Homo sapiens: one gene and its partners. The protein of the gene in region 3 interacts with the protein of the main gene of each other region in a pairwise test. Each region holds a gene or a part of one and is shown on either strand. Other genes may lie near its edges. The genes, in order: BAAT, FAM177A1, SH3GLB1 and SMIM12.

Region 1 (7,028 bases), on a different chromosome or scaffold from region 3:
TATCTGTCAGTGACTATGACATGTAGACTCTTGATAAATTCTTTTTGAAGTACTAATCAATTTGACTAAGAGTTGGAAATGTAGATTCCATTTCTGACTCTCATGTATTTCTGTATGATCTTAAGTACTCAATTTCTTGATTACAAGAAAACAAATGAAATACGGTACTTGGAAGCTATAGTATCACTTATTTTTAAGCTTCTCAGGAAACATATTCAATGTTTACTCACCACTGAATTATCATTCTCAGGACTTCTCTCTCTGTAGGCTCATTCTTGTCAGCATGTATTTATGTCTGTGTCTGTCTCATCTCTCATCTATATATACACATATATGCAACACAAACACTGTTGCATATATTTTCTTTTACTTTCAATCTGTCTTTTTTTGACAATGTGTTTCTGAAAAATAACCACTTGCTTTTTCAATTAGTTTGACAATCTGTCTTCTTTTTTATTTTTATGTATGTATTTATTTTAGAGATAGGATTTCAGCTCTTTCACCCAAGGTGGAGTCAGCTCTTTCACCCAGTGGCATGATCACAGCTCACTGCATCCTTGACCTCTTGGGCTCAAGCAATTCTTCTGCCTCAGCCTCTCAAGCAGCTGGGACTACAAGTTTGCCCCACCACACCCAGCTAATTTTTACTTTTTTTTTGTAGAGATGGGATCTCACTATGTTGCCCAGGCTGGTCTCAACCTCCTGGGATCAACCGGTCCTCATACCTCAGCCTCCCAAAGTGCTAGGATTACAGGCATGAGTCACCACGCCTGGCCTGTGTCTTCTAATTGGAGTGTTTGATCTGTTTGTATTTAACGTAATTATTGATATGTGTGGGTTTAAACTCCCATTTCCATTCATCCCATTTATTATTTGCTCCTTTATTCCTCCTTTCCTCTTGTGGCAGATTGCATTTCCCAAAAATGTATACACAAATACACATACAAATACACACACACAGCCAGGTGCGGTGGCTCATGCCTGTAATCCCAGCACTTTGGGAGGCTGAGGCAGGCGGATCATTTGAGGTCAGGAGTTTGAGACCAGCCTGACCAACATGCTGAAACCCCATCTCTACTAAAAAAACACAAAAAAATTGGCCAGGCATGGTGGTGGGTGCCTGTAATCCCAGCTACTCGGGAGGCTGAGGCAGGAGAATCACTTGAACTGGGAAGTGGAGATTGCAGTGAGCCAAGATTGCACCACTGCACTCCAGCCTGGGCGACAGAGCAAGACTCCATCTTAAAAAATAAAAAGCAAATACACATACACGTTTCATCCACTTAAAAAAATTTTACAATGTGATTGACATATCTCCTACTGTTAATAGGTATCAACATTTTCTCCACTTGAATTTTGATGGGAGCTTGTGGCTGCTATTAAATGGCAGAGATTATGCTATGTGATTTCCAGTGCTAGGATATAAAAAGGATACAGCTTCTACCTAGCTTTTTCTCTCTTGTGTTGCTTGCCCTTCCAACCCAGCCACCATGCTGTGAGTAAGCTTGCTCTGTGGTAAGTGAGCAGGTCTGTGCAAACCTACCCCCAAAGGCCAAGGGAGCTGAGACACTGAACAAAGAGAGTGACAAAACAGTTTCTCAGAGAGAAACATTTAATAGGGGCTTACAAACAGAAGCTGTGTCTCAGGCAGCTGTGAGACAAAGGATCCCCTCACTGTTACTCCCCAGACCCAGGGTTGATATACCATAGGGAAAGGATATACATGCTTCAGCAGGAATATGTAGGAATTTGCCTAAGGGTAGGATTTATGGTAGGTGCTCTTATACAAGAGATAGTAGATAAGGCAGAAATCTTAAAGGCATTCCTAGAAGTGGGATTAATCAGATGTCAACTGGCAGATTAGAATTCAAGATGGAGTTGCTATAACCTCCACACTCCAGCTTTCTAATTGGGCTTTTAGAATCTCACACACTGTCCTCTTCTTCAATGGTCTTTGAGTTTAGAGGAAGGGTGCTTGATATTGTACAGCTTTAGCAGCAGTGCACTGGCAATGGGAAACAGATCAGGCCCAGTGGGATTTCAGATGAGAAAAAATGCATAGGCTTTCTTGAATCATCTCTAGTCTTTGGAGTACCATGATTTTGATTTTCTTGGATGAAGTAAAACAATGAGAGATAAATAACATTAATATGCACACAAGGGACTACAATCAAAAACAGAATTTGTATGCCAGAACAACAACAACAAAAAAGAACCTATTCCATTAGGGAGCCAACTAAAAACAACATGAAGAAAATTAAAACCGGGTTTGTCTTTAGAGACTTCTTGTAGCCACAAAATAATTTAGGATTTAGTCCAAATTGTAGGCAAGTAATAAAAACAATGGTTAAGACTAGAATCTAATCATGGGTGTACAATAGTTTTCTTCTGAAACAATTTTTTTCTAAGTTTCTCTATTTCTACCAAGGATAAATTATTGTAGGACCAATTTATTTGCAAAATGAATTTTAGTCTCATTATGCTTGACCTGATTATTTGCATAAAGTGCAGCAAGAATAGTGATTGGCCATATAGGTTCTTGTAAAATTGGCTTTTTTGGAACTTTTAAATAAAGAATCTCAGATTTTTTTAAAGCCTTGAGGCTAACAAAGCCAGGGATTTGCCATCAGGCTGCAATAGCTGTATAAATTGGGTGAATTCTTCTAAAGATTTCCAAATAACTGGAGGTTCCTGGGCATGTCAAAATGCGACATTCGCCGGATGCGGTGGCTCACGCCTGTAATCCCAGCACTTTGGGAGGCTGAGGCAGGCGGATCACCTGAGGTCAGGAGTTGGAGACCTCCTAACAATGGTATTTCTGGTTTTAGATCCTTGAGGAATCACCATACTGTCTTCTACAATGGTTGAAGTAATTTACACTCCCACCAACAGTGTACAACTGTTCCTATTTCTCCACATCCTCTCCAGCATCTGTTGTTTCTTGACTTTTTAATGATCACCATTCTAACTGGCATGAGATATTATCTCATTGTGGTTTTGATTTGCATTTCTCTAATGACCAGTGATGATGAGCTTTTTTTAAATATGTTTGTTGGCTGCATAAATGTCTTCTTTTGAGAAGTGTCTGTTTATATCCTTCACCCACTTTTTGATGAGGCAGTTTGTTTTTTTCTTGTAAATTTGTTTAAGTTCCTTGTAGATTCTGGATGTTAGCCCTTTGTCAGATGGATAGACTGCAAACATTTTCTTTCATTCTGTAGGTTGCCTGTTCACTCTGATGATAGTTTCTTTTGCTGAACAGAAGCTCTTTAGTTTAATTAGATCCCATTTGTCAATTTTGGCTTCTGGTGAAATTGCTTTTGGTGTTTTAGTCATGAAATCTTTGCCTGTGCCTATGTCCTGAATGGTATTGCTTAGGTTTTCTTCTAGGGTTTTTATAGTTTTAGGTTTTACATTTAAGTCTTTAATCCATCTTGAGTTAATTTTTGTATAAGGTGTAAGGAAGAAGTCTAGTTTCCATTTTCTGCATATGGCTAGCCAGTTTTCCCAGGACCGTTTATTAAATAGGGAATCCTTTCTCTGTTGCTTGTTTTTGTCAGGTTTGTCAAAGATCAGATGGTTGTAGATGTGTAGTGTTATTTCTGAGGCCTCTGTTCTGTTCCATTGGTCTATATATCTGTTTTGGTACCAGTACCATGCTGTTTTGTTTACTGTAGCCTTGTAGTATAGTTTGAAGTCAGGTAGCATGATGCCTCCAGTGTTGTTCTTTTTGCTTAGGATTGTCTTGACTATATGGGCTCTTTTTTGGTTCCATATGAAATTTAAAGTAGTTTTTTCTAGTTCTGTGAATAGTATTGAATTTATAAATTACTTTGGGCAGTATGGCCATTTTCACAGTATCACTTCTTCCTATCAATGAGCATGGAATTATTTTTCCATTTGTTTATGTCCTCTCTTATTTCCTTGAGCAGTGGTTTGTAGTTCTCCTTGAAGAGGTCCTTCACTTCCCTTGTAAGCTGTATTCCTATGTATTTTATTCTCTTTGTAGCAGTTGTGATTGGGAGTTCACTCACGTTTTGGCTCTCTGCTTGTCTAATATTGGTATAGTAATGCTTGTGATTTTTGCACATTGATTTTGTATCCTGAGACTTTGCTGAAGTTGCTTATCAGCTTAAGGAGTTTTTAGACTGAGATGATGGGGTTCTCTAAATATAGAATCATGTCATCTGCAAACAGAGACAATTTGTCTTCCTCTCTTCCTATTTGAATACCCCTTATTTCTTTCTCTTGCCTTATTGCCCTGGCTAGAACTTCCAATACTTTGTTGAATAGGAGAGGTGAGAGAGGACATCCTTGTCTTGTGCTGGTTTTCAAAGGGAATGCTTCCAGGTTTGCCCATTCATTATGATATTGGCTATGGGTTTGTCATAAATAGCTCTTATTATTTTGAGATATGTTCCATCAATATCTAGTTTACTGAGAGTTTTTAGCATGAAGGGGTGTTGTAAACATTTTAGCTTTTATAATCCTATCAATCCTTATATTTTATGCTCTAGTCTCAGGAACTTCTGTACTCCACCCCCAGACCATTTTACCCTCTCTTGTGAAAAAACCTCTGGGTTCCCAGCAAGGAGTTGAGCCAAGGGATGTGGGCCTTTTTGTCAATCTTTATCTGATTAGTCTGTCTCCACATTGCCCCAGGAAATTATTAATCAGCTTTCTCATTGTAATTTTTGCCTTCTGATTTTTGAAACTTCCCCAATCTGGTGTAAATATAGAAAACTGATTTGGGGCTCTTTAATGTTGGGGAACCAGCAGGGACTCCCTTTGGTCCACCCAACATTTGATAGTGTTGTATTAAGACTCAAAAGGTAAACAAAAATTTTATTATCTCTCATTAATACTATCCAAAAATCTTGTTCAAAAGAGAAAACTAAATTTTGCTTTGTATTAGAGTATTATCAATAGTAAAGCTAATTTTAATAAAATTTTATGAATGATTTCATTGACTCTCACTCAGCTTTTGACCACACAAGAATTCCATAAAGCTTTTCTCTATCCAAAGGAATATAAATAAATCACTCTACCATAAAGACACATGCATATGAAAGTTCATTGCAGCACTATTCACAATAGCTTTTCACAGTTTCAAAGACATGGAATCTACCTAATGCCCATTAATGCCCTCTTACAAAATTGCTTTCTATGTTTCTCTTTCTCTAACTTTTAGATCTATTTATTTGTATCTATATCATTTCTTCCATTCATTTTGAAACAATCTTTAAAATACCACTAAACCGGGCCAGCATGCCTACATGCTCCTAGTCTTTGTGCACGAGTGGGAGGTGGCAGGCCTCCAACAATGCAGCTAGTCTTTGTGCGTGAGTGGGAGGTGGCAGGCCTCCAACTGTGGCCTTCTCTGCTGACTGTTCTAGTGAGGCATCCCCAGCCATGAACCATTTTGGTACCTGGTTGGTGGGAGGCAGGGTGACCCCATTGCTGCCACTGAAAGCCCGCAACAATGAAAATCTCAACAAAATTGGTATGTCTTTGGATGATATCATCAAACTAAATTGACAGGGAGGAAAGAAGCATAATTTTCTAACTGGAGCCTGGCAATTCAGGATGAGCATATGATGGAGAATTCAACAGAATTCTGGCTTTGGTAAGACTAGTCTGAGCACAGAGGATGAGTAATGCCTGGAAAGAGACAGCTTTATGGAGTTATCACTGGCCTTGCATCTAGGAAAGCAACTGGAATTCACAAAGAAATTAATCCTATGAATCATCCGTCTCTAGGTGACAGGAATATAGAACGATATTTTCTAGTGTTAAAAAGGAAGGCAAACCTTCTGGGACAAATATGAAGTGCAGAAAAAAACCAGTTGCAGTTCTCAAGGGACCTAACCAGCTAAACAGAAAAAAAAAACATTCCAGCCAATTTTACCAAGAATGGAAATAAATTAAGCCATCAGAAACACATGCGTCAGGCAACTTTTCATTTCAGAAGAGACGTGAAGGTTCAGACCCAGTTGAACACAACAGCAACTGCTGGATAACGTAGTCGGAAAGAGAACTCATCAATGGCAGATTTTTGTTGCAGGACTTCTTTTTAGTTCAGCTAAAGATGTGGTCCTTGTCCCACGGCCACAAAAATTTAGGCTCACAATTTGCGGAGTGAGAAAAATGGAACTTATTGGGCAAAAAGGAGAAAAGGGGGAACAGTTACTTTCGGCAAAGCCGGAATCGCAGCTAGTGCGCTCCCTGCCTCGCCATTTGAATCCAAGGTTCCACACAGGAAGAGGAGGGGCCAGGCTCCTCCCTACTGCAAATAGCAGAAACTTCGGTGGCACCCCAGTGTGCATTCCTCCCAGTTCGCCCGCGGTTGGAGTTTTTCCATGGACTCCTTCCCACTGGCTGTCTCACTTTCACCACAAACGGAGGAATTTTGACTCTATCTTTGGACAATCCTGGAGCAGTGCAATGCCTAACACAGAAATCAGGATTAATTCATACTGCTGTATCTTCATTTTTAACAAAATGGAAGCAATCTGACATAACGAAAGTTCCTAAAGTGGAACCCTACAATTGACATAAATTGTGCTGGAAAACAGACAGAGATGACTTTGAATGAGAAGTTTAGGATCCTGAAGGAACAAAGAGCCACTCTGACAAACAACAAAGGAGGAAGCTGCTTTGTAACTGTATTAGTCTGTTCACACACTGCTAATAAAGACATACCTGAGAGTAGGTAATTTATAAAGGAAAGAGGTTTAATGGACTCAAAGTTTCACATGGCTGGAGAGGCCTCACAATCATAGCAGAAGACAAAGGAGAAGCAAAGTCATGTCTTACATGGTGTCAGGCAAAAGAGCTTGTGCAGGGAACTCCCATGTATAAAACCATCAGTTCTTGTGAGACTTATTCACTACCATGAGAACAGTATGGGGGGGAACAACTCCCGTGATTCATTTATTTCCACCTGGCCCTGCCCTTAACATGTGGGGATTATTACAATTCAAGGTTAAGATTTGGTTGGGAACACAGCCAAACCATATCAGTAATCA
Region 2 (6,635 bases), on a different chromosome or scaffold from region 3:
TATGTTAATTCAGGATAAAGACTTCAGTTATACATTACATTTAGTTTTTATGAGATGCTGAAAGATTAGAAGAAGGTAAATATGAACTATGATCCAGAAGGAACTGGAATTCTGTTTTTTTTTTTTTTTTTGGAGACGAGTCTTGCTGTGTCGCCCAGGCTGGAGTACAATGGTGCAAACTCCATTCACTGCAACCTCCGCCTCCCAGGCTCAAGTGACTCTCCTGCCTCAGCCTCCCGAGCAGCTAGGATTACAAGCACCTGCTACCATGCCCGGCTAATTTTTGTATTTTTAGTAGAAATCCATCTCTACTAATTCACCATGTTGGCCAGGTTGGTCTCGGACTCCTGACCTAGTGATCCGCCCACCTTGGCCTCCCAAAGTGCTGGGACTACAGGCGTGGGCCACCGTGCCCAGCTGGAACTGGAATTCTTAAAAGGACTGAAAAGGAGATAGGAAAAAGTGAGTGAAAGAGGCTTAAAGTAAGACAAACCATTGAATACATTTATGGGAAATTTTATAGTTTGCATAAACAAAGTATAAACTTAAGGCACAGTGAATAACTATATTGATAAACATAAACTAGCCACTATTGGACAAGTAGCAAAAGTAAAATTCAAGAAACAAAACCTTCATAAGTCACTACTTCCTTTTGTTACAATCATAAAATTTTCTGGGTAAACTCTAGATACTAGTACCTCTAGGGAGACAGGATTCAGAAGATCACTTTTAGACACACCTATCTTCACTTGATAACCAAATAAATATCTGTGAGTGAGAGGTACTATCTCGAATGAAGTTAAAAACAAATTAGAAGGAAAAGGTCAGGTTAGCATGTTTTAGAACTATTGGTAAACTATAATTCATGGGACATTATATAATCAAAAGATTAATATTTTAAGCACTAAGTTATAAAGGGTTTACACCCATGAATAAAAAGATTACCATCACTTACTATGAACCACCATTCCATGAATCCATGTAGCTGAACACTCCTAATGAAAAGTTTAATTATCCTTCAACCTGTAGTTGAAGAACTCAGTTCATGTTCATTGACAGATTTCCATTACAGACCCACTATATTGATGTTACTTTCTTTGACACTATATTTTATATAGATATATTAAAATTGAAAACTTAATGCTGTTTAGAAGGCTATTAATATAACTATTAATTTCTGAAAGCTTTGAGTTTCTGAAAAGGCTTTTAAGATCAAAATTTCTGAAACACTCCACACATTCTTCCTCACCCACATTTAATTATAAATCAATGTTATACTGATAAAAGGTTCTATACACACATTTAGAGATATATGTGTGTGTGTGTGTGTCTGTGTGTGTGTATATATATATACTTTTTTCCCCCCAAGATGGAGTCTCACTCTGTCGCCCAGGCTGGAGTGCAGTGGTGCAATCTTGGCTCACTGCAACCTCCACCTCCCTGGTTCAAGTGATTCTCCTGCCTCAGCCTCCCGAGCAGCTGGGATTACAGACGTGCACCACCACGCCTGGCTAATTTTTGTATTTTTGTAGAGACGGGGTTTCACTACGTTGGCCAGGCTGGTCTCAAACTCCTGACCTCAAGTAATCTGCCCACTTCAGCCTCCCAAAGTGCTGGGATTACAGGTGTGAGCACCGTACCTGGCCATATTTAGGAATATTTTCAAAATTAGCTTCACAATATATACATTTGTAAGGTTTACAAATAACCAAGTAGGTAGAGGAGTGGCCAACCAGATTCAAGTAAACTGTCCAGTCTTCACTGTTGCTACTTCTAAATGATGAATGACGGGTAATTTCATTAGGCTATCATTGCACCTTATACAATATCTAATTGCTCCTGATGGATTAAATCTATACCTGTCCCACTATCCCCCAATCCCCTCCAAACCACTTTTCTATAGGATTAACGCTGAACCGATAACATAACCAGGATGCCACATGGATATTCACTAGGTATTAACATTAATAAATCTATTCTATAAGTAGTGTTTTAATATTATGTTCAAAGCTAGTTATTTGAGTCCTGAAAAAGAATACAAGATTAAGTAAGTGGCTTGCATTAAAAAATGGAAGCCTATCTTAATATCTGGTGTTATAAATACAGATTCTTACATAAAACAGTTATTCTCAATGAAAGAAAATTCAAAGTGCTTCCATCTTGCTCCTTTTATTATATGGTGAAGCATCCTTAGTGTGAAATTAATGGTTAGATATATAAATGCATGGCATAACATGAGAAAATCTAGGAGAAAATATCCTCATTTTAATCTAAGACTATGGAATTATCAATTCCAATTAGACTTAATCAGCAACTTACCTTTTTCAAAAAAAGCAAATGCACAAATAGGCTTGATAATTTAACTCTTCTTAACTATTAAGGCTCTAGGATGTCCTTAACTTTTTTAAAAGATCATTTTAAAACCAAAGCACTAATTTCTATACACAGTAAAAACAGTACAAATATCTGAATTTCAGATCTGGCTTTTGCTAGATAGATCCTAAAAATGAAGAAAACATTTTCCCTTTCCAGATACTTTAATAATTTAAAATATAAATAATTGTATTAAGTCCCACTGAATAAAGAATGTGAAAGTTTTTGTATTAAAAAAAAAAAACTTAAGAGTTTGAAGCTTGATAGTCATTTCATTTTATGGTGGGACAGAGACTGGATTTTGCTTGCTTTCCATAATTACTTCACTGTCTCCCTCCATTTCAAAATTGACATTCACAAATGAGCTGGATATCACTGTCTCTGGTTGATCTGTCTGAACAATGGAATCAGTCTGCAATTTATTCTGTTGATATTGTTTTTCTGCTTCTTCAGACATCCTGTTTTCTTCTTCTTCTTCTTCTTCCTAAAAAAAAGGAGCAATATCAAGAATAGTTGAAATACGAAAGTCCAAAAGGTATATAGTGCTGTTTTCCCCACTGTCAGCTTATGTTTAAAAAAAAAAAAAAAAAAAAGTGTCATGTTCAAATCAGTTTGGTCTAATTAAGACATACTTTCCCTTCTCCTGCTCTCTAATTGAAATAACCACTGTAAAACATTTTAAGGAAAGTAGTTTTTTCTTGTTGTTTGTTTTTTTTGAGAAAGAGTATTGCTCTGTCACCCAGGCTGGAGTGCAGTGGCTCACTGCAACCTCCATCTCCCAGGCTCAAGCAATTCTCCTGCCTCAGCCTCCTGAGTAGCTGGGACTACAAGCACCTGCCACCACGCCCAGCTAATTTTTGTATTTTTAGTAAAGACAGGGTTTCACCATGTTGGCCAGGCTGGTCTCGAACTCCTGACCACAAGTGATCCACCCACCTCGGCCTCCCAAAGTGTTGGGATTACAGGCATGAGCCACCGCGCTCAGCCCAAAAGAGGTTACTTTTTAAAACAGGGTCCAGCACTACATCACGTAGATGAGACCTGAATTAACTTTGACAAGGACTTTATTTTTTTCAGATTAAGTCTAAGCTAAATAAATAAAAAGTTAGCTTCAACTGTATCACTTCAATTGTAGGGTGTCAGTCTATTCGGTTGAATAGGTTGGTTCATTTACTACATGATATATAGCATAGTTAGTTTTCCCATAAGCATCAAATACATAGATAAGGCAGCACCTACCCTCAAGAAGTTTACAACTTAGTAGGGAAGTTAAGACATGTAAAAACAGTATTATGACAGATGTACAGATTTTGAAAGGGTAAATAATTTCTAGTTGCAGAACTACTAAATTCATTGAGTAGGTGGCATTTGTATTGGACCCTGCAGAACGGGTAGTCAGTACACAGTGAGTAACCCCAGAAGATTACTCTGGGGCTTGCTTGAGAATAGAGACCATTTAGGAGGCTAGTATAATAGCCCAGATGAGGTAATGAGGCTCTAAGCAAGGCTTACAGTGTTAAGAAATACTTATTTGTTCATAAAACAGGTTTGAAACCATATGACAAATATTAAGTCAGCTGACCTTTCCAGGCTCATGTCCAGTCACTCCCACATTGTACCTTATGCTCCAGTGACAATAAACTATTATATTTTTGCCATTTCCCCAACCATAACAATGTACCTTCATGCCTCTACATTCTAGCTTTACCTGAATTGCTGCCCTCTATTTGCTTGAAGAATAGCAGATGCCAATATTTGTTGTGCTCACTAGGTGCTGTTCTAAACATTTTATATATTAATGTATTTAATCTGTAGAGCAGCCCCCGAGCATGGATGCTGCAATTCTCCTCATTACAAAGATGAGGAGATTGAGGCTTATAGAGGGGTTAAGTGTTCTGTCCAAGGTTACAAAGTTTTAAGTGGTAGAACGGATTTTGAATTCAAGCCCTTTGGTTCTTGAGCCCATGCTCTTAAGCACTAAAGGCTTTTATTTTTTAAGACAAAATTCACTTCACTCTCACCTTAAGACCTCACTACTTTTAAACTGCCCTCAAATTTTTGTGCATTAACACCTGGCACATACACATTTCTTGTACTTAAATTTTTATCTGTGCCAAACCCACTCCACTTTTCCTATATCCAGTCCATGTGCTCTAAGTATCTTGTTTCTTCATCTTAGAATTAGAATGATAATCCAAAGAGAGGCATGTGAAGATTAAATAATGTATATAAGGCATCTCACATAGCACTAAGACAATGAAATCTAGCTTAGTTTTGCACACAGATCATAGGAAAATTCCAGTTTAAAGGAATTCCAAAATGTATGTTACTTTGATAAAAGAAATTAATGATTCTAGAATGAAATGCCTAGCATAAGAGAGCTACATGTTGGGCAGTTAGAAAATACATAGGCTCATTATGCAACCCATCAAGTCCATAGCAAACCAAACTGAATCAAGAAAATGTAAAAAGGAGGCATACCTCCTTCTTCATCCGATAATATTCATCAATGGCATATTGGTACTTTGGGGTGCTGATACCCAAAACAGATGCAATCTTCTCTCCAAGGAAGTCACACACTGAAAATACAAAAGTTAAAAGACTTATATAATTCTATAAACATTTCTTGAGCACTTTCTATGTGTAAGACACTGTAGGAATACAAGAGTTACTGTTCCTGCTCTCAAGGAGATTATAAAAACCTAATAGATCTATCTTCTGTATATCTTCCCTGATTTTCTTCAAGAAGTACCGGTGGCTTCAAAACTCCCAACAAGTCTTTTCATGTCTGTATTAGAATACTTATCACTAGGTGTATCTGTTATATATCTATGTCTTTAAGAAAAGTGTATACTGCCAGGCATGGCGGCTCATGTCTATAATCCCAGCACTTTGGGAGGCTGAGGCAGGCAAATCACATGAGGTCAGGACTTCAAGACCAGCTTGAACAACATGATGAAACCTCATCTCTACTAAAAATACAAAAATTAGCTGGGCATGGTGGTGGGCACCTGTAATCCCAGCTACTCAGGAGGCTGAGGCAAGAGAATAGCTTGAAACTGGGAGGTGGAGGTTACGGTGAGACAAGATCACACCACTGCACTCCAGCCTTGATGAAAGAGCAAGACTCTGTCTCAAAAAAGAAAAATGTATACTCAGAAAGCTGGGATATCACTGGGCTGGAGGAGGGGAATGGCTTGTAGTATAATACTCACTGAGTGCCTACCATGTGCCAGGTACTGTGAAAGGTTAGGCGTAGAGAGGTTAAAGAACTTAACCCAAACTGATAAGGCAGATCCAAAGTTCAAAGCTAGGTCTGAATCTCAAGCTCATGCTCTTTCCATTACACCAACCTGTCTAGCATATATTCAGTGCTCAGTAAATGTTTGTTGAATCAATTACTATTCACAATTAGCTCTAATAAAATGCAGAAAGTGATAAAAAGCTATGAGGGAGTTAAAAATGGAAGCAGAAGAAAGCTTCATAATTTAAAACCTATATTTTAAATTAGCATTATTAAGTTATAAGTTGATAATTCATTTCCTTCAAATATGACTTAGTCACATCTCAATTTAAGAAATGGAATATTAATGAAATAGAAATATAAATTAACTATAATACAGGCTTTAGAATAAGCAGTGAGACAGATTGAGAATGTTATCAATTGGAAACCAAATGACAAAGCAGCAAAATAGCTGTTAAGAGAAAGGGTTTAAGAACTTGAGGCCGGGCGCGGTGGCTCACGCCTGTGGTCCCAGCACTTTGGGAGGCCGAGGCGGGTGGATCATGAGGTCAGGAGATCGAGACCATCCTGGCCAACAAGGTGAAACCCCGTCTCTACTAAAAATACAAAAAATTAGCCGGGCGCGGTGGCGGGCGCCTGTGGTCCCAGCTGCTCGGGAGGCTGAGGCAGGCGAATGGCGTGAACCCGGGAAGCGGAGCTTGCAGTGAGCCAAGATTGTGCCACTGCAGTCCGCAGTCCGGCCTGGGCGACAGAGCGAGACTCCGTCTCAAAAAAAAAAAAAAAAAAAAAAAAAGAACTTGAAAACCATATCTAAACTAACATAGTCATTTTTCATTCCTCAAAAAATAAACTATATTGGAAGCTGAAGAATGTTTTAATGTGAAGTACAAGTTAGGTTACTATCTCCCAATGCTAGCTAGCTCTTGAGGACAGTGATTAACTCCCTATTGTTTCTCCTTCAGTTTGGAAACATCCTATTTAGCAAAGTTCCTGTTGCTGAAGCATGTTACAGCAATTA
Region 3 (7,028 bases):
TAAGGTGTTGATAATAACCTGAAAGTATTAAACCAAGAAGAAGGATGCTGAAAGAAACAATAAAACTCAGAAAATAGAGTAGCAAACGAGATTTTTGAGAAACGAAAGGAGAGAAAGGCAAGGTGAACACTGTTTTGTCAGCCAGAAGTGAGTCATTACTGAGCACAGAATTAATGCTAGTGATATACCTGTGTTAAGATGGGAGGAAGCCACATATTCTAGAGGAAAATGATGCATGATAAACAGCTTGAGTCATCACCTCTAATGTTTAATTAAAAGTATCCAGAAGGCTGTAGATCTACACAGAATCTTTTTACTGCTTTATTATTATATAGGCAGTGCTACCTTTTCTCAAATACCAGTATATTCAATAATAAAAATTGATTCATTGAGTACGTTTAACCACATTTTATGACCTTTAAAAGATGTCTTCATAGTATGAATAGGATATGTTCCAAAAGTTAGTCTATAAATAAATTGCTGGAACATATCCTCAGCAGCTTAAATGACAGGTTTTATGGTATGTTCTGGGAAACTATTTATCTAACTAGGTGTGATTAAAGTGCTAATAAGACATAAACCACAATAAACATTAACAGCTCTTTCAAAACTTAATAATTACAAGGCACCAAACAAAGTGATTTGCATACACAATCATACTTAATCCCCCAAACACTATAAAATATGTATTGTCTCTCTTTTATAATAGAGGGTACTAAAGAAAAAATATTCAATACATTGCTCAGCTCACACAGCAAGGAACAAAGTTAAGATTTGAATTCAGATTCAACTGACTCAAAGCTCTTACTCTTTACCGTTATCCTAGTCTACCTAGGATAGGTAGTTGAAATAGTTGCATGCTTTATATACCAAGAAGTATACTTAGGTTTTCTGTAGAATTCACACCATACATTTTAGCAGAACTAAGGGTATGTGATGACTGTAAGGTAGGGTCATCCACAAAAGAAGTATGGATAAATTACCATAGGAGCAAAAAAAAGTATTCATAAGCAATGGCTTACAAAGCTGGAGCATGGTTATTTGTATGTTTAGGATTGTTTAGCTTTGAATTTGCTTTTTACTTATTGATATGGTTCCCTAAAATTTATTTGCAGTATATTTAATTTTTGTTTTACAATCAATAACAGTTCACAGAAGAAAAGCTTGGCCAGGCTGAGAAGACAGAATTGGATGCTCACTTAGAGAACCTCCTTAGCAAAGCTGAATGTACCAAAATATGGACAGAAAAAATAATGAAACAAACTGAAGTGTTATTGCAGCCAAATCCAAGTAAGAAACTCTACCTCTTGTGTACCTTAAGTACTATTAGTGGGTTTTTAAATGTTAAAAAAAAAAGTTTTAATGGCCATCTGAAAACATAGGATTTTTTTATTGTAGCTTCAAGGTCAGTGGGTTTTTTTGTGTGTGCTTTTGTGAAGAGGAAGTGATAAACAGCTATGTACCTAACCAATTTTAAAATGATATTTTTCAGTCTTTTATAGAATCCTTGTAAAAAATCTCAATTTTAGGCAGTGACTTTGAATTTTAATTTATGAGCAGCTGTGTATATAAATATGTTTTCCTTTTTCATCTAGGGAAGAATTGTCCCTAGATAATTAAGACAAAGTTATATAGTTGCTTAAGTAGGTACCATTTTTTATGTTTAAGTTTTTGGTGTGTTTTTTTGTTTGTTTGTTTGTTTGTTTGTTTGTTTTTTGAGACAGAGTCTCGCCCTGTCGCCCATGCTGGAGTGCAATGGTGTGATCTTGGCTCACTGCAACCTCCACCTCCCAGGTTGAAGCAATTCTTCTGCCTCAGCCTCCCAAGTAGCTGGGATTACAGGCATGTGCCACCACGCCCAGCTAATTTTTTTTTGTGTGTGTGTCTTTAGTAGAGATAGGGTTTCACCATGTTGTCCAGCCTAGTCTCGAACTCCTGACCTCGTGATCCACCTGCCTCGGCCTCCCAAAGTACTGGGATGACAGCCATAAGCCACTGCGCCCCGCCTATGTTTAAGTTTTACATTTTCACATAAATTATTTCATTTCATCTTCAGACAACTATGAGATTTTCAGATAAGTCAACTCAATAATCTTGCAGTTAAGGTGCATAATTGTTTAGTGAATGAAACTCATGAGTTAGCATCTTGTCAAATGTAGCATAGCTAATTAGAAGTGGAAATTGGACTAGAACCGGGTGTATGAACATCCAGTCTTTTCACTGTGAGCTTTGCATATCAAAACTGAAGAACAAAGGTACAATGTATGCTTTCCTTCTTTTTTCCCCAACTTGTTTGGGACCAAGTTGTGATATGACATATGCTTACTTTTAGATACTAACTTAAACTTCAAGCACTATATAAATATTAGCAGTTCTCTATCATTTTAGTTAAATAGTAGTGACTTTTTAAATACACCTTTTGGTTGAAAAACTTAACTGTTGAGTTCTGTGCTCAGTACCTGGGTAACAGGTTCATGTGTACCCCAAACTTCAGCATCATTCAGTATACCCAGGTAGCAAATCTGCATGTGTACTCCTTGAACTAAAATAAAAGTTGGAAATAAAATAAGCTTTTTGCACTTTGAGTGAGTCCTAATGTCTTTGGACACCATGTAATATTTTTTATTCATTTAAGGCCATTTAAATTCTACACTCTGGCACTTTTATTAAAAGTAATAGACATTTTTCCCCTTGTTCTAAACATATTTTTCTGAATGGGAAATAAGCTCATTCACAACTGGTAAACAGGGAAATAAAATACAATTTCCTCCTGCCCCTGTTTTGTGCCAGGAAGTCGTAATAATTGTTTTTGTTTTTTGTTTGTGCTGTGGTTTTTTTGTTTTGTTTTGTTTTGTTTTGTTTGAGACAGAGTCTTGCTGTGTCACCCAGGCTGGAGTGCAGTGGTGTGATCTTGGTTCACTGCAACCTCCACCTCCTGGGTTCAAGCGATTTTCCTGCCTCTGCCTGCTGAGAGTAGCTGGGATTACAGGTGTCCACCACCATACCCGGCTAATTTTTGTATTTTTAGTAGAGACAGGGTTTCTCCATGTTGGCCAGGCTGGTCTCGAACTCCCGACCTCAGGTAATCTGCCCGCCTCAGCCTCCCAAAGCGCTGGGATTACACGTGTGAGCCACCATGCCCAGCCTGTGCTCTGGTTATTAAGTTACATAGGTTTTGAGCAGCCAAACCTAACACTCCTTTTCTTGTAATTCCTATGTTGTTTTCAATGTATGATCTTCTGGAAATGGGTTTTTCAAAAATACGTTATGCAGAAATACATATTACATTGTAGCAGAGTTGCCTGCATATTTAAGATTTTATTATAACCTATTGAAATTAAACATTTATTAGTATTCCAAATATTTTATTAACTGAACGAAGTCAGCATAAGATTCCATTTTAAACTTTTGGCCAGATAGGTGGAAAAGCAGTCAAAATTAAGAATCAGAGTCAAAACACAAAGCTGTTTTTTTTTTTTTTTGAGACAGAGTCTCACTCTTTCACCTGGGCTGGAGTGCAGTGGCACAATCTCTGCTTACTGCAAGATCTGCCTCCTGGGTTCAAGTGATTGTCCTGCCTCAGCTTCCCGAGTAGTTGGGATTACAGGCATGCGCTACCACACCTAGCTAATTTTTGTATTTTTTTTTTTAGTAGAGACGGGGTTTCACCATGTCAGCCAGGCTGGTCTCAAACTCCTGACATCAAGTGGTCTACCTGCCTTGGCCTCCCAAAGTGCTGGGATTACAGGCATGTACCACCACACCGGGCCAAAATGAAGTTCTGAAATTTAACTAGTATCTTCTAAATGGTTATGTTTTAAAAAGCTCTTTTTGGTTTTAACTATTTAAAGGTATTTAATTTCTGCTTTAAAACTTCTGATTTTGTACTAGAATCTACCACAAAAGCAAGTATCATTGCTATACTCTATTTTATGTATTATAACTAAGCCTTTTACCAACTCCTGAAATGTTTCTGTTACTGGTTCAGCTCATTTTTTAAATTTTCAGTGCACTGTGTGAAACTTCCGCATGCGTAGGAATCTATGTGAGGTACTTAGAGGGAACCTATTTGACTTAGCTTCAATTTATGCTTAATCGTTGTTTCTGGAAACTTAAGCCATTTTTTCACTTGTCCTGAAATACCTCTAGGTTGGACAGCATTGTAAATGTTAATATCTTTGGTCTTAAGCATTTTGCTAACCAAGTGTTTATTCAGCTTTTGTTTTTTTCCCCTTTCCATTTATTCTAATGTTCTATTATTGCTTTAACCTTTCGTATTTTAAACTTATTTTTAATGATGAAATCTTTTGAGTGAATGCATGCTCAGAGATATACTTGTATACTTTAAACATAAACTAAAGCCAAGGCATCATATTGCTGATCTGTCTGTAGACTATTCCAAGCCTGGATTGTTCTATGCCTTAAGCGCCTGTGTCTATATTTAGACTCTAGGCAAGAAAAAGAGAGAGCAAATGCTCATGCTAAAGCTGTCAGATGTAAGTCTTTGGTTCTTCCAGGTACTTTATATCTGTATTTTCCTAGCCAGAAATCCTGATTTTGAAATTATGAATGTACATTCAGAGTAAAAATTAGAGTTAAAATGCTACAAACAGGGCAAAGACACCTTCAATAAATATTAAGTGAATTAATCAGTCCTTTTCTGGAACTTAAAATCTTGTAGAATACTCAAATAATAATTTTATTTTATTTTAAAATGCTTTTGTGCCAAGATATTTTATCAAATTTCTAAAATATAATTTTTTAGTTATATAATAGTCTAACATAAAATTTAAAAAATTATTTATTAAGATATGTGCTTGAATGAATGCTAACTTTAGGAGATGATAAATGGCTGCTGATGGGGGAAAAAAACAATCTTCTAATTAGTTTTGCTTTTTAGAAATCATTGGTAATTTTAACCTTTCTCCTAGATGCCAGGATAGAAGAATTTGTTTATGAGAAACTGGATAGAAAAGCTCCAAGTCGTATAAACAACCCAGAACTTTTGGGACAATATATGATTGATGCAGGGACTGAGTTTGGCCCAGGAACAGCTTATGGTAAGTGAAATGCAAAAAGTTCTAATAAGGGATATCTTTATGTTTAGATTTATTAGAGATGTCATTAACATATTAGTAGGCCGGGTGCAGTGGCTCACACCTGTAATCCCAGCACTTTGGGTGGTTGAGGTGGGCGGATCATGAGGTCAGGAGATCGAGACTATCCTGGCTAACATGGTGAAACCCCGTCTCTACTAAAAATAACAAAAAATTAGCTGGGTGTGGTGGCAGACACCTGTAGTCCCAGCTACTTGGGAGGCTGAGGCAGGAGAATGGCGTGAACCTTGGACGTGGAGCTTGCAGTGAGCCAAGATCACACCACTGCACTCCAGCCTGGGCCACAGAACGAGACTCTGTCTCAAAAAAAAAAAAAAAAAAAAAACATAGTAGTAGAATTGGTTTTAACTTCAAATTTATGTTAAAAATTTTTGATGAAGTGAGAAATATAGGCAAATATATACAGTTAAATGTAATATTTAATATATTCAAGCATATATTTAGTTATTCAGAGAATTCACATCTTTTTTAGTTCTAAAAAGTTTAATGAATTCTTCACTTGTTCTCCCAGTGATCTTACAATACCTATGTTATAATACTTGTGATATTGCAATTATTGTTTGCATATGTCTCTTCATTTTTAAAAAAGCTTTCTTAGGGCTTATTTTATGTTAAAGGTACTTGGCACGTAGTTCTTGAACAAATCAGTGCTTTTGTTATAATTTTGCAGTAATGTCAGTAACCAAAAAATATTAACAATTGTTATCTCTGGATATTTGGATTACATTTCATTTCTGTTTTTCTCTTATGTATTTCAAATTTTCTATAGCCGTGGTTTAGTTACACTCGCTTTATTAGTTGCTGTACAGACTTTAAATGTATAGCCCTGAAGCTCAAAGTTACATACACATCTTTATTGTCACTCTAATTTTCTCATAACATGAGACTGTTACAGATTTCAGTAGCTTCTTTTCCTGTTGTTTATGTCTAATAATAATTCTCTTTATACATCTGCAAGATACTGGTCTTTGGATATGAAATGGTAGGTAGATTAAATTAATTTCTACACATAGTTCTGATTTACAGAATGGTTTATAAATTCTAGGATTAAATGAATTTTAAGCTTTAGTAGTTATCTTTATGTCAGAAAGAAATAACCTAAATATTGTTGAATGCCACTAATCCATTGACAGGCTTTTTTAGGTACACAACTTTGAAACTTCTACATTGTGTTCTTCAAAATCTAATTTTTAAGTTTGAAAATGCTTAGAACTTCAAAATAAAATTATTTCTGAATTTTACTGTTAATTTTTAGAAAAATGTTATACATTAAACAGATGTTTTATTGCCTACTTGTGCCAAGCTCAGTTAGATGCTGGGATCATAAAGGTATGTGAAAGGAACCCAGCAGCCCCTTCCTTCACCAGGCTGAAGAAGGTTTTAGCAGAGCATGAACATTAGTAAAGGCTTCTAGATTTTCTTCCCTTTTAAATCTGCTTAATCTGTTTGCACCTCTAGTAATTCTAGTGAATGTACCCTGGTTATTAGAATTGGGCTTTGTGAACCTATTACCTTATTAGTAATTAATACTAAAAATTGAGTATCACAGGCATGGGCTAAGCATTATATAGTATATATATTTACATATTAATTCTCATTTATATCCTGCTTTTAAGATAAATTATATTACCTTCATTTTAAAGACAAGGAAACAGGTTTGGAGAAGTTAAATAATTAATCCACAGTCACAGCTAGTATAGTAATTCAAATGAAGATCTGTCTGTATCCAGTGACGGAGCTCTTAACTACTATCTGTATTACCTTCCTTATCAGTCAGATCAAAGCTTATCCTAACATGAAGGGATTAAGATCCTTAGAGCTAAAGCTTATTAGAAGTAAAACTAGGAGTGGAACCCTGATCTTGGGGCTTCCTTTCTTTCTACTCTACTTTGTACTGTACTTGCCCTATTT
Region 4 (7,620 bases), about 52 Mb from region 3:
AGATGATTAGAGATTAGCTGCTGAAGGAGGGCCAGGGCTGGGAAGAATGTTCCAAGATCAGGGAACAGCTGTGCAAAGGCTTGGAAGAGGAAGAGACATTGGGAGCACAGAGACTTGATTATATCAGTGTTTGGGTCTCATTGAGGCAGGTGGCCTGGGTCTTGTGGGCTGTAGGGAGCCATAGAAGGGTTTTGAACAGAGGAGTGGCATGAACGTTTTATAGACTGGTTTGGTAGACAACTTTGGAAAAGCAAGAGATGGTCCACGTACACACATGAGCCTGGAAGGTGAGGAGAACTCTAATGTGATCTGAATTCCCAAAAGCAGTCCGTTTGGAGGTGATCCCATACAGACTCCTGGGCCTGGTCCAAGACTTAGTGAATAGACTCTGCCCTCGAATAAGGTTTTAACAAGTGCTTCACAAGATTCTGAGCAGCCAGCTTTGGGAAGACTTAAATTGGATGACTGTCCAAAGGTCTCCAGTAGAAGGGCTGGGTCAGTTTACCTCTCTGAGGTTGTTTTATCATCTCTAAAATTGGGGGCATGGGTGAGGTTTGAACTCAGAGCAATGCTGTAAAACAGATATTGTTTTCACCCCCATTTACAGATGAGGAAATGGGCTTGGAGAGGTTTAAACAGCTTACCTCAAACCATGAAGCCAGGAAGTGGCTGAGTCTGAGTTTAACCTTTACATTTATACAGCATTTTATGGGTCTATGACTTTATTCATAGAGTTTTCCATGTCTGGTGTGGATGAGTCTCCTTTGGTTCTTGTGGCCTAGGTAGTTATGCTGAGCCCCATAGATAGTGAAAGATTAGGTCCAGTCCTTTTGCTTGAGTTGCTTACAGTCTGGCCATGGCCAGCATATAAACAGAAAGTTATGGTGCAAAGGGAAACCTGTTCTCCCAGAGGGGCCAAGGGATTGAGAGGAGAGAGCCTCTAGCAACCAGGGTGTTTTAGTCCATTTTGTGCTGCTATAACAATACCACAGACTGGATAACTTATAATGAACAGGTATTTATTGGCTCACAGTTCTGGGTGCTGGGGAATTCAGTGTCAAGGGGCTGGCAACTTGTGAGGGCCTTCTTGCTGTGTCATCCCATGGCAGGTGAGAGGGCAAGAGAGGGCAAGAGGGAGTTGAACTTGCCCTTTTATAAGGGTGTCAATCCACCCATGAGAGTGCAGCCCTCATGGCCTAATAACCTCTTAAAGGTCCCACCTCTTAATACAATGACAAATTTCAGTGTAAGTTTTGGAGGGTACAACCATAGCACAGGCAGTCTGGGAAAGCCTTCTGCCTTGTGAGTTGGATCTTGCAGGATGAATTAGCATTTTGTAGTCAAGGAAGAGAAGGGAGAAATTCATTTCTGGCCAAGGGACCAACCTGGGCAAAGCCATGGAAGCACATGTGTGTTGGGAATGAAAGCATAGGCTGGAGAGGGTGACAGGTTATGGTGGCTGTGGAGGGCGTGGAGGAGATACGGCCAGAAGGGACCCATAGAGTTGGGGGTGGGAGGCTAAGATGGAAACCTCATAGTTTTATTTGAAAGATGAAACTACGGCCAAAAGAAAGGAAATGGACTGGATGGGGCAACAAGACAGCAGGGAGACCATTCAGGGAGCTGCTAAAGTGGTCCAGGTAAGAGATAATGATGTTGACTTTGAGAGACATTTAGGAGGCATAAGTGCAGTAAGCTGGATCTGGAGAATAATGTAAAGATGGGACGCCTTGAAGGTGTCACTCAGATTTCTGGCTTAATGAATGAGTAATGCCACGAATGGACATAGGACATTACAGAAGGAGCAATACAGTTGGGAAATACTTAACATGTCAATAACCATTTACTGAGCACTGAGAAGGTGCAAACTACTATGCCAAGCACTTTATACACATTTAGGTGATTTAATACTCATAGCAACCCTAGGAGTGGGTACTATTATTGTCTTTTTTTAAAAACAAAGAGTGTAAATAGCTTTTCTGAGATAAGCAGACAAGAGTCAGGATTTGAACCCATGGCTATCTGATTTCTCAGTCTATGCTCCTGAGCCCCTCAGCAATTCTGCTTGAGGGAACTGCTAGCCATGACTCAAGACTCAGCTCAAGGCTTGGTTCCTCTAGGGAGCCTTCCCTGAATCTTCCTGGCTGGGCTGAAGATCCTCCTCTGTGCTGCGTGTGTATACTTCTGTCATCACATTTCTTACATTCTATTGACATTTTGTAGACCCATCTGTTTCTTTAGTCAGAGAACTCTGGAGGCAGGTTGGTCCCAGTCATTTTTGCATCCCCATTGCCTAGCACATGATTGGCTGACCAAATGCCAGTTACTCTGGACAGTTCTGTTCCCTTCTCCTCTCCACATATTCAGTTAGTGAGCAGGTTCTGCTAACAACGGTCTCCTAAATATTTATTTGTACTGTTGGGGCTCAGAAAGCGATACCCCAAAGACTGGCGCTTTGACATGCTGAGAGGCCTTCGAAGCTGCCTCAGAATCAAGGTCCCTCTAACCTTCTCTCCCAAGTATAGGGAGGCACTCTCTCTAGAATTTCCTAATCTGATCGAGAAAACGTCTTTCCAAAAGAAACAAAATTGCCTTCCTCCCCTCTCCGAAATCTCATCTAGCTCAGAAAAGAAGACTGAGGAAGGCAACTACGCCTGGATGGATTTTTCACAAGATGATGCCTGTTTCTCGGGCTCATTCAAATTCTAAAGAGAATCATTTACAAGTTAATTTCTGTCCATTTTTTCGCCCTAAGAATCACTTGCTGCCCTCAGAAGAATTGTCTATATTCTCCATCTCTCCCCTTCCCCTATGAAAAAGAGTGTATACGCTTCTGTACCCCATTGGGTTATTGGGTAATCATTCTCCTGTGACCCTTCCCTTCCCACCCCCTCGCCTCCCCGCCCCGTGCTATGCACGTTAAAATAAAATTTTGTATGTCTTTTCTCCTATTAATCTGCCTTTTGTCAGTTGATTTTCAGTGAACCTTGGCCCCTACAATACTGTTCCCTTTTCTCCATCTTCACTGCCAGAGCTTAGCTTTGAGCTGTTTGAGATAATAGAGGAAGGGTGTCTAATGTGATAAGCAGTCTATGTATGAGGCTTCCTCTGGAGGTGACCCTTAAGCTTGAAAATTGTGCCAGAGCACAATCTGGCATAGTAAAGAAAGGTGGGAAGGGCACTACATGGCCAGGCACGGTGGCTCATGCCTGTAATCCCAGCACTTTGGGAGGCTGAGGCGGGCGGATTGCTTGAGCTCAGGAGTTCGAGACCAGCCCTAGCAACATGGTGAAACCCAGTCTCTACAAAAAGTACAAAAATTAGCCAGGCCTGGTGGTGTGCATCTGTGGTCCCAGCTACTCGGAAGGCTGAAGTGGGAGGATCACTTGAGCCCAGGAGGTTGAGGCTGCAGTGAGCTATGATTGTGCCACTGCACTCTAGCCTGGGCAACAGAGCGAGAGTCCTGTTAAAAAAAAAAAAAAAAGCGGCCAGGCGCAGTGGCTCACGCCTGTAATCCCAGCACTTTGGGAGGCCGATGCGGGCAGATCACCTGAGGTCGGGAGTTCGAGACCAGCTTCCCCAACATGGAGAAACCCCTTCTCTATTAAAAATACAAAATTAGCCGGGCGTGGTGGTGCATGCCTGTGATCCCAGCTACTCAGGAGGCTGAGGCAGGGGAATCACTTGAACCTGGGAGGCGGAGGTTGCGGTGAGCCGAGATCACGCCATTGCACTCCAGCCCAGGCAACAAGAGTGAAATTGAACAACAACAACAAAAAAGGTGGGAAGGTAGATGAAAAAGCATCAATAAGGCACTGAGGTGTGAAACAGTGTGGTCTGCCGGGTTTAGTATGTGCGAGCAAAATAAATATGCAGGCTGAGATTAGTGGGATGAGGGTGGGAAGGGCCTTGTGGGAGCATTAACAAGCTTGAGCTTTGGGACTTTTCTGTATATGATAAAATTGATGTCTGTATAGGGTACAGTGGGGACACAGAGGAGGAAGTGAATACTTGTACCCAAGAGGTCATGTAAGACTTAGGTTTTACTATATTTGAATTATTTTTACACTAACAATAGCCACATTTATTTCCCTGCTGGCTGTGTGCCTGCCACAGTACTTTACAAATATTATCTCTTCCAACCCTCACACCATCCTTGCGAAATGGGTGTTATTACCTCTACACAGAAGGGGAAGGGAGGCTCAGACAGGTTAATAATGTTCCCAAGGTCACTAGAAAGCTAGCCCGGATCCCAAGAGGTCTTAAAGCACTAAAATATACTCTTCTAAGAAGAGCTTCTTGAGGTCAGGGATCATGTCTTTTGTTTTTGCGTGCCCAGACCTAGGTCTTAGAAGACGCCTAATAAACATCAGTTGAAAAAAATGACTGGATGATCTTTCACTTTTTCCACGCAGAAAACACGTGGCGACATCACTGAGAAACCTCCCGGCCAACAGAGGGCGCGACGTCCATTTCAGCGCAGTGGGGCCCAGTTGCGGACGCCTAGCTTCCTTCCGTCCTTTGGCTGAAGTTCAGCCAATCCCTGCGCTCCGAGAGAGCCGGCGGCCAGTGGGCAGGGTCACAGGGCAAGGTCCCGCGGGCCGCTGGGTGCGGCGACTTCCGTGCTCCCGGCGAGCGGGCGGAGAGCGGGGGCCGCACTGGGGAGTGTGGGCTGGGCCGCAGGTGAGCGCGCGGTCCCGGCGAGCAGGTCGGGTCAGCCCAGGCCAGTAACCTCTGAGTTACGGGAGGAGTGATCGCTAGGGTCCACCCCGGTCCCGGCCAGATCTGCCAGCTCCCCTCTCTGGCGGGTGTTCTGGTGCCAAGTCTGGGAGCCCAGGTAGCCCTCCGCAGACAGGGCTTCTCGGCACCTCAATGAGGACGGACGTTGATGAGGCCATGAATGAGGTGGGCTAGGGACAGGGGACCGGGAGACTCACAGAAGGGAGAAGGGTAGCCATTTGGATGGACCTTCGCCTTACTTGCGCTCCCATTCCTGGACTGCGCTCTAGTGACTGTCAGGGCTAATTCTTCCGCCTTCTCAGGCCTCCTGTGTCCTTGTTAGTAGTTCTTGAATTTGGGACTACGGCTTCTGGCCTCGTTGGGCCTCCGGGCCCTCGCACTGGGGCAGGTTTCCCAGCAGCCCAGTTGACCTTTACCGGATGCTTTTGGCAGACGTCCTCCATGCCGGGCTGGAAATATGCGTCACAGTGTTTTTCAGACACTTTTGCCTCTTTCATTGTGATACCCTGCCTGGGGACGACTATGATGGAGTCTTTAGGTTTTTGTAATCAGCAAAGGCATCTGTTATGCTCCTGCCACCTTTTGGGGGAGAGTGGGTGGAGGATGTTGTGATTTTACACTAGGGAGTTTGGGCTGTCATTCATTCGTTCAGCAGACCTTTTTTGGGCACTCTGCCAGGCAGGGTAGGAGAGGTGCCTGGATGGATAGGGCATAATTGGGCCAGACAGACACGGTTCTTAGCCTTTTGGAGCTTAAAGTGTCTTGAGAAACGCAGACAGGGTAAGCCAGCATCGTGCCTGACACAGAGTAAGTGGTTATAAGTGTCGAATAAAGGAATGAATTGACTTATTTGGGAATGATTAGAATGTGAGCAGGACGGTAGCGAGAGACTTTATGCTGCATGTGAGAGATAGTTGTGAACTCATGCGCGATATGTTTTAAGACAGGTTTGGAAATCTGAACGGACAGTTGCTATTTAGGGAAGCATTTACTTATACAGAGGACTTGCTTTAAAGGTGGAAGTAAAATGGAGAAGTATTAGGTTTGGGATTCTTCAGAGGTGCCTCTTTTAACTATTACTATGTCTCTGAATTTCATAAATCCCTGAGTACAATCTCAGAGTTTGGGAAAAGGAAAGCTCTTCTAGGTAATGAAATGCCAGGCTGATGGGAAAAAACTGTAGGAAGCTCTCCCTAAGTCCAGGGTTTGGACAGAAACCGTATACCTCTGCAGTGTGTTCTTCCCACTAGAAAGAGTGTAGGCTTTGAAATTGGAGAGGCCTGGGTTCAAAATCAGTGGCTCTATCACTTCTAGTGATCTTGGATAAGTTAACATAATGTCTGTGAGCCTTTGTGGCCTTCACAAGAGTCTGGGCTAATAATTCCTACATCATAGAGGTGTTATGAGGATCAAATGATGATTAGTGTGTAAATTGTCATCATAGTGCCTGGTGCTGAGACAATAAGCGGGGGAGTCTTGGAGATGCTGCAATTTTTTTTTTTTTTTTAAATTTCATGATGCTGCCTTATTGCAGGGGTCCTTAACCCCCTGGGCCACAGACCAGTGGTGGTCTTCAGCCCATTAGAAACTGGGCTGCACAGCAGGAGGTGAGCGGTGGGCAAGCTGGCAAGCATTACCGCCTGAGCTCCACCTTCTGATAGATCAGCAGCGGCATTAGATTCTCACAGGAGTGCAAACTCTATTGTGAACTGCGCATGTGAGGGATCTACGTTGTGTGCCCCTTATGAGAATCTAATGCCTGATGATCTGAGCTGGAACAGTTTCATCCCGAAACCATCCCTCTCCAACCCCCATCTGTGGAAAAATTGTCTTCCACGAAACTGGTCCCTGGTGCCAAATATAGATTGGGGACCGCTGCCTTATAGTGTTACGTCTAGAGAACATTGGGATTCCTTCAAAGAGAATTGGAACCAAAGAGAGAGGGGGAGAATCATCTTATCCTTGGTGAGGTTTCGATTGTTCACTTTAGATCAGAGATAGTAGTGTTGGAGAAATACCTACAGGGGCATAAACAGAAAGATCTTTTAGTGGATACTTTTGGGCAAGTCTCTTAACCCTCTGATAGTGGGTTATGTATCTACCTCACGTGGTGGACATGAGGATTAAGAGAGTGAGTGTATATGAAGCACCTAGCCCAAGGCCTGGCATGTAAGTGCTCAATAAATGGTAGCTGTGTTATTATAACTGTGAATGATCTTTGATAATTGATAATGGTAATAATCATTTGAGATGGAATTGGCCATTAGAGTGATCCAATTTGTGTGTTTTTACATTACTTTGGTATTGCCCTACTTCAATTCAGGAGGCCCTGAGGCCATTCCACTCCGCTCCCCGCCCCACCCCACCCCACCCCACCCCCCGGGCTTGTACAGTGATTTTTCACAGAAAATCTTCAGGTTCTGCGGTATCCAGAGTATGTATAATGATTTGTGATATTTTCAGGAGCTTTTTATGTAAATATGAAGGTATGGGTTTGGTTGAAGATAGGATTTTTTTTTTTTTCTTGAGACGGAGTTTCGTTCTGCCGCCCAGGCTGGAGTGCAGTGGCTTGATCTTAGCTCACTGCAACCTCCGCCTCCCAGGTTCAAGTGATTCTCCTGCCTCAGCCTCCTGAGTAATGGGGATTACAAGCCTCCCAAAGTTCTGGAATTACAGGTGTGAGCCACCGTCTTTAGCCAAGATAGGATATTTTGAAAATGGTTTAGTCAGCAGATTTGTAAAGTATAGGTTTGTTCCATTGTTAGAAAAGCCAGGTTCAGAACAGGATAAAACCATTATCTATTTACCTAAAATCCAGAATAATTAGGTAATGCATTATGTATTTGACTGTTTAAATATGCTCCTTATGCTTTACATGAG

Evidence for each region.
Region 1: the proteins of SH3GLB1 (region 3) and BAAT interact in binary tests that used the Homo sapiens proteins (3 or more experiments, as listed by UniProt).
Region 2: the proteins of SH3GLB1 (region 3) and FAM177A1 interact in binary tests that used the Homo sapiens proteins (3 or more experiments, as listed by UniProt).
Region 4: the proteins of SH3GLB1 (region 3) and SMIM12 interact in binary tests that used the Homo sapiens proteins (3 or more experiments, as listed by UniProt).

The regions. Positions count from the first base shown.
Region 1 is NC_000009.12:101,374,988-101,382,015, reverse strand, and holds part of BAAT (bile acid-CoA:amino acid N-acyltransferase), read left to right. Parts: intron 1-7,028. UniProt on the Homo sapiens protein: Catalyzes the amidation of bile acids (BAs) with the amino acids taurine and glycine. More than 95% of the BAs are N-acyl amidates with glycine and taurine.
Region 2 is NC_000014.9:35,077,244-35,083,878, reverse strand, and holds the end of FAM177A1 (protein FAM177A1 isoform 1 precursor), read right to left. Parts: intron 4,953-6,635; coding exon 4,855-4,952; intron 2,858-4,854; coding exon 2,651-2,857; 3' UTR 501-2,650; downstream 1-500.
Region 3 is NC_000001.11:86,714,576-86,721,603, forward strand, and holds part of SH3GLB1 (endophilin-B1), read left to right. Parts: intron 1-1,148; coding exon 1,149-1,290; intron 1,291-4,931; coding exon 4,932-5,060; intron 5,061-7,028. UniProt on the Homo sapiens protein: May be required for normal outer mitochondrial membrane dynamics. Required for coatomer-mediated retrograde transport in certain cells. May recruit other proteins to membranes with high curvature. May promote membrane fusion.
Region 4 is NC_000001.11:34,856,740-34,864,359, reverse strand, and holds the start of SMIM12 (small integral membrane protein 12), read left to right. Parts: upstream 1-4,610; 5' UTR 4,611-4,683; exon of another isoform or gene 4,684-6,881; coding exon of another isoform or gene 6,882-6,909; exon of another isoform or gene 6,910-6,990; coding exon of another isoform or gene 6,991-7,174; intron 7,175-7,620.